2 separate regions of the Homo sapiens genome follow, and region 2 is linked to region 1. Evidence: fine-mapped expression QTL. A gene starts in region 1. The other region holds a variant in brackets. All regions are shown on one strand. Distances are from middle to middle.

Region 1 (2,904 bases):
CCATTTCAGAGTTAACACCTCTGACAACAGGCTAGTAGCCTAAAGGTGGCCTGCAGTAGGTGAATTCCACCTAATTTACAACTCGAGTCTCCCATTCAAACCTAAGACTGTTAAAAAATGCCCGACTCCCTGGAGCAGGGAGCTTTGGAACAAAACACTTCCCTTACCCCCTACTTTAACGGTAAAACCTCAAACCACAAAGGTGGAAGAAAAGAGGGAAGCTAGCAGGAGTGCCCCCTCTAATTGTCTATTCTTATGTGCTGTTTACTGGGTCATTAAAATCTTACAAGGCCTTTATAGTCATTGTAATTGTTGAATTCAAGGTTTGTCCCAGTTGTTTGTACAGAAGTCTCTCACTTTGAAACTCAGAAACATTTCCCCTAACATCTTGTCTAAAAGAACCTTTCAAGCAATGTACTGACCAACTCCTTGAGTGATCTGTGGCCCCTGCAGGAGTGGGGGTAGGGAGCGCCATGTCGCACACCTGTTGTCAGGTGACACTGCCAGCAGCATCCTGCACACTCACCTCCCCACTCCACCCCACCCCCAGCGAGGCTCTTTCCTGCTGGCCTTCTCCACCCGGGGAAGCCTACAGCCTTCCGGAGTTACCTTTTAAAAAAAGCAAACCCTTCCTACCACAAAGCAAACAAAAGGCTGATACCGAGACAATCGGGAGCAGCGGGGGTTCCCGTGGCCCCTCTCCAGCCCATCCTTGGACCACTCCCCAACCCGGTCCCCCGCACCAGCCCGGCTTCAATCCCGCGAGTAGCCCCCGCCTTCCCCTCCCTGCAGATAGCGAGCCAGACGCCTACACCTCGGCCCCCCGGGGCTCGGGCCCGACTTATTGTGCCGGGGCCGGCAACTCGCGGGCCGGCGGGGGCCTCACCAAGTACAACTCTGCTCACAGCAGCTCCCGGGTGCCCAGGCCCAGACTGCCTAGCCAGCGCCGCGGGGCCTCCTGCGGCCTCGGGCCTGGCCCGTGAGCCCGCCCCAGGAAGGGTCGCCAGGGTAGGCGCCAGCACCGCTTTTTTCCCACAAAAGCGCCCAGGCGCGGGCAGGGGGATGCGTTTCGAAGAGAAGTTGGTTTCCAGGTTTCTTTTTTGAACAAAACCAAAGGGAATCCCGCGCGGCCCGACAAGGCCTGGGAGGACGTAGTGCACGCGCGAGGACCCGGCGTGGGCCACACCGAACCCGGCGGCCCGAGCCCGGCCCGCACCACACCGGTGCGCGCCAGGCCGGGCCGCTCCCGGGCACCCGCGGCCGGACCCGAGCGGCGGGGACAGGGAGTGCGGCAAGGGGGCCCGCGCGGCACTTACGCGGCGGCTCGGTGGCGGCGGCGGCAGCTGCAAGGTGTCTCGGCCTGAGCCCTCCTGGCCGCTCGCGCCTTTTCTCTCCGCGCTCCTCGCTGGCCCGCCCGCCTCTTCGCTTCCCGCCCGCGCGGCCCGCGCTCTCCCCCTCCGCCCGGCGCCGCTGCCGAGTGAACTGGAACCAGTCCTCGCGGCCGGCTTCCCACAATGCACAGCGCGCCGCTCGTCACATCCCTTCGCGGCCCCGAGCGTCCGGCCTCCGCGCCCGTGCCGCCCGGCGCCCCGGCCTTGACCCCGGGCCCGCGCCCTACCCGTTGACGCCGGCCGCTCTGCGCCCAGGCACCAGCCCGCACCCCGGACGCGAGGTCTGACCCATGACCCCGGGGACGCCCAGAGCCCAGTCCTTGGGAAGGGCCAGGCCCCTGGAGAGGAGCTTCTTCAGGGCGCGTCCCAGACTCTGCGTCTCGAGTGAACGCCTACTGTGTGCCTGGCTCTGAGCACGGGACTGTCGCTGCCACGGCATCTTTAGGAACCTTCCCACTAACCCAGTGGGAAGGCACAATGGCTGTTACCAGCGATCGCTCTTCCCTCCCCAGTCAATGCCAACTCCCCCCTGCCCCGCCTCAGAGACCCCGCTGTCTTTAGATACAGGCCACCGCCAAGCCCTGGTCTGCCCCAAGATCAATTACTGCGCACCCGGTTCCCCTGGGGTCCTTCAGTTAATCCTCCTCACCCCGAAGTCTGGAACCTGCCTTGCACATGGAAGCGGTTAGCTACTTCGCTTCAGCAAAAGTTCACTTTCGGACCCAAGTTGGGAATTACTAATGTAGACAGTGATTCCTTATCATCACACACGTTTTTTAAAAACTGCGGACAGGCCGAAAGAGGAGGAGCCGCCACAAAGCCCGCCACGTCTTCCTAAATTGGTTTACCGCCTGAAGGCATTGGTGCCCCATCCCGGGTACTTAAATGGGGGCCTGCCCTCTACTCCCCTCCCTCCAAAGTGTGGAGCCGGAAGCCACTTCTCCATCCAGCTGTGAACTAAATTTGGATAATAATACACATCCCTCAGGGTTGATGTGAAGTTTAAAGTGCCGCTACTGGGGATTATGGAGGTAATTAGAGACCCCCACCCCCACCCCCCAGTCCTCAGGCTGCGCGGGAATCGCAGCGGCAGTAACCTCCACCTCACCGGGATGCTTTACACCTTACTTTAAGAGTTTGCAAAACAATGTCCAATACCTGCCATTCATGCATTCGTTAATTCGATTAAGTACTGAGAACGTATTTTGTGTCATACATCGATTTGGGTGCTGGATATGAAACAGCCAAGAGAACAGGCAGAAATCTCTGCCCTCCTGTAGTTTGCAGTCTCGTGGGGGAAAGACAGACAAACGGGAGAATGTGTCAGAGGGTCTCCATGGGGTGGAGAAAAATAAGGCGGAGAAGGGGAATAGGAAGTGTGAGATAAGAGTGAGGCTCAAATACAAGAGAAGGCCTCTATGAGAAAGTAACATTTAAAGCCTGAAGAAATTGAGGGAGCAAGCCGTGTGGATGTCTGGGGAAGAACTGCGCCGAGCATGAGGAATAGCAAGTG
Region 2 (2,904 bases), 35 kb after region 1:
GGCACAATATATTGTATATTTTGAATAAATTTTTCCTTGCCTGTAAAGTAAGCAAATTACTAGACTATAATAATGTCTAGTAATAATTACTAGACTAAAGTAATGAGACTGTCTTGGGCAATTATGAAATATCTTCTGGGCTCATCTTTGAGAATGTGTGCCAGTGTCTTCTTGCTGCCTGGCAACTCAGGTATTCTTTGAGATTGGTTTGCACTTTCACCCTGAGTCCCTTAGACACATTTTCAAAAACTATTCTAATATGTCCCATCCAGGGAAAAAGACAGAAAAGAGCCTGGCCTAGAAACTCAAATGTAAGTACAGGTCATCTTCACAAGCAAGGGAGGAAAGAGGAAGGGTCACTTTCATCCTACTGATTTTTACTGAACCCCGACCAGGTGCCAGGTCTGGACCAGCCCCCTGGGAAATGGAAGTGAACAAGACACAGACCTTCCCTGGCCTCTACCTGCTGGATACTGGTAGTATCCTCTCCCCAAGCCAGACATTGTGAAATGTCCTCTGGGGAGAGGCAAAATCCACTCCGGTTGAGAACCACTAAGTTAAAGCATGATGTGTCCATGTGGTGGCATAGTATACTCATCAGGATAGTTTTTAGAAGTCATTAAAGATGTGTACAAAAATCTTCACAATATGACACAAAGAAAAAAGTTAGATCTATAATTTTACATATAAGAATAATACTAAAAGTACCAAATATACATACACAGTACATGGAAAGAGGTGGGAAGGAAATATAATAAAACATTATAAGAATTAAGCTGGATGGTAGGATAAATGACATGTTTCCAATTTTCTATTGTAAAAAACATTTTTTCAATAAGGATCAATGTTTTATATTTATTTTATGCATTTTTTTTGTTGTTGCAATTTTTAAAACCAGGCGGGTCTTGAACTTCTGGCCTCAAGCAAGCCTCCTGTGTCAGCCTCCCAAAGCTCTGCAATTACAGGCGTGAGCCACTGTGCCTGGCCCAATGTTTCATATTTATTTATTTGTACATACAATGTTGCTATGAGCCTGACCATTTATTTTAAGGAAATTTATTATTGGATATAACAGACATACAGAAAAGTGCACAAGTCATAAGTGTGTGGCTCAGGGGATTTCACTACGTGGTCATACCCATGTAGCCAGCACCAAGATCAGGGAACATCACAGGCGCTCTTACCTCCAGTGTCAACTTCCAGTCACCACCCCCCAGGGCTGACCCATTTCCTGATTTAAACTCCAGAGATTCTGTTTGCCTATTTTTAAGCTTCATATAAATGGAATCACACAGTGTGAACTCATTTGTGTCTGGCTGGCTTTGCTCAACATTGTTGAGCAATGTTGTTACTGTATGTAGTTGCAGTAGAGCACGGGTATGGATCATTTAAAAATCATAAAGCTATTTTTAAAAGAAGGCAGATTTGAAACCCTGGGACACTTTTTGCTTCCTGGGGAGCGCTACACAGTCCTTCTGCTGGGAAGTCGGCCCATGGCCTCCAGCCCCATCTGCTGCCCTGAAGATCCCAAACATTCTCTTGTGCAGTTGCTTCTGCAAAACTAAGGAGGATTTGTGCCAGTACTCCTGACCCTGCC[G/T]GCTCGCCCACCATCGCCAGTGATATGCATTTGGGCCCCTTGACAAGGAGGCCAATCAGATAGAATGGAGAGGGGGACATATGTGTCTCACCATGGTGGTGCCGGACATAAGGCTGACAGGAAGTGGTGTCCAGCAGGGGTTCAGATCCTCCTGAAGGGAGGGCCATCTCTTCCTGCTCCCGTGGTGACTGTCGCTGATAGGCCACAGGCAGAGAAGCAGAAGCTCTCTCTCAAAGGTCGCCCCATCTGGCCCTGGCTCATCACATTCCTCAGCGTAAAGCACCCTCTGCCCTTGTTCTCGTTGCAGCAATCCTATGAGGGTTAGGGCTAGGGGGGGCTACAGTTATTTTCCATTTTGTGGACCATGAGGCTGAGACTGGGGAAAGTCAGCCTGCAGAAGGGCACAAGCTGGGCTTCGTGTCCAGGACTCCATGACTCCCAAGCCCGAGTTCTTACCCCTGGATATTTGCCTCTAAAGGCCACCTCCCTGTCCCTCCCATGTCTGGCTGAGGTTGGGAGATGGGGGTCGTGACTCAGTCTCCGGTGATGGGCTCAGCCTGGCGAGCTGCTCCCAGCCAGCTGTGTGGTCAGGCAAGTCATTCTCCCAGAAGATGCTGCAGTTTGTTTGACCATAAAGTGGGCAGCTCAATACTTCTCTTCTTCTCACGCCAAGCCCCTCCTCCCCGAGCCTGCAGGAATCTCTGGAAAAATGTTCTGGAAAAACGGAGGCATTTTTACGACTCTCTCCTCACCTAAACCCGCTGCGCCAGGACAGAGCCCAGACCCTCGGGCTCTAACCGTTATCCTACACTTTGGACCCGGGCAGCCCCTGCCTTTGATGTTGTCTTGCTAAATGTCCCCGAGTCACTGGCGGGCTCTGATCTCTCCAGCACCTAATAATTCAGTCTGAAGTAGTGAGCAGCTAATCAGCTGGGCAACTCTTGCAGCTGCACAATGAAGTTGAAGGGAAAGGGGGTCCCTTTCATTCTTGGGGTCTCATTCTACAACCCGATGGCCAAGGCAGACAGCACCGTCCGCTGGCCAGGGGGTGGGGTTAATTCCTGCAAGGACCTGGGTGAAGGTCTGCCTGGCCAAGGCAGCCCGTTGCAAGGTTTGAATCATGGCTGTCTCAGCTGGGCCATCGGGTGGGAATTAAAATTTAATTTAGAAAGTCCTGTCTCTGCGGCCCTGGTGGCCGTCGTCTGGGTGATTGACTGGCTGGTTTCTTTCACCTTTGCACGTCTTGGGTTTTTACTGGCAGAGGAAATGAAGGCTGAACTGGGGCAGGAAATTCCATGTACACAGGT

What was found. PIP is the estimated chance that this variant, and not a neighbour inherited with it, causes the effect.
Region 2: its variant is the best candidate, but not a certain one, in a credible set for the expression of MACROH2A1 in whole blood (TOPMed, PIP 0.59).

The regions. Positions count from the first base shown.
Region 1 is chr5:135,397,746-135,400,649 of GRCh38, forward strand. It overlaps MACROH2A1 (macroH2A.1 histone), which reads right to left and starts at 1,486. Exons shown (of 9, transcript NM_138610.3): 1 at 1,317-1,486. RefSeq lists silencers at 822-881, 1,192-1,361, 1,372-1,831 and enhancers at 1,732-2,237, 2,238-2,743.
Region 2 is chr5:135,432,540-135,435,443 of GRCh38, forward strand. No RefSeq gene overlaps it. Among named protein-coding and RNA genes, the nearest start is that of DCANP1, 13 kb to the right of the region's middle. RefSeq lists an enhancer at 1,370-2,904. The variant G/T (reference allele first, on the strand shown) is at 1,598.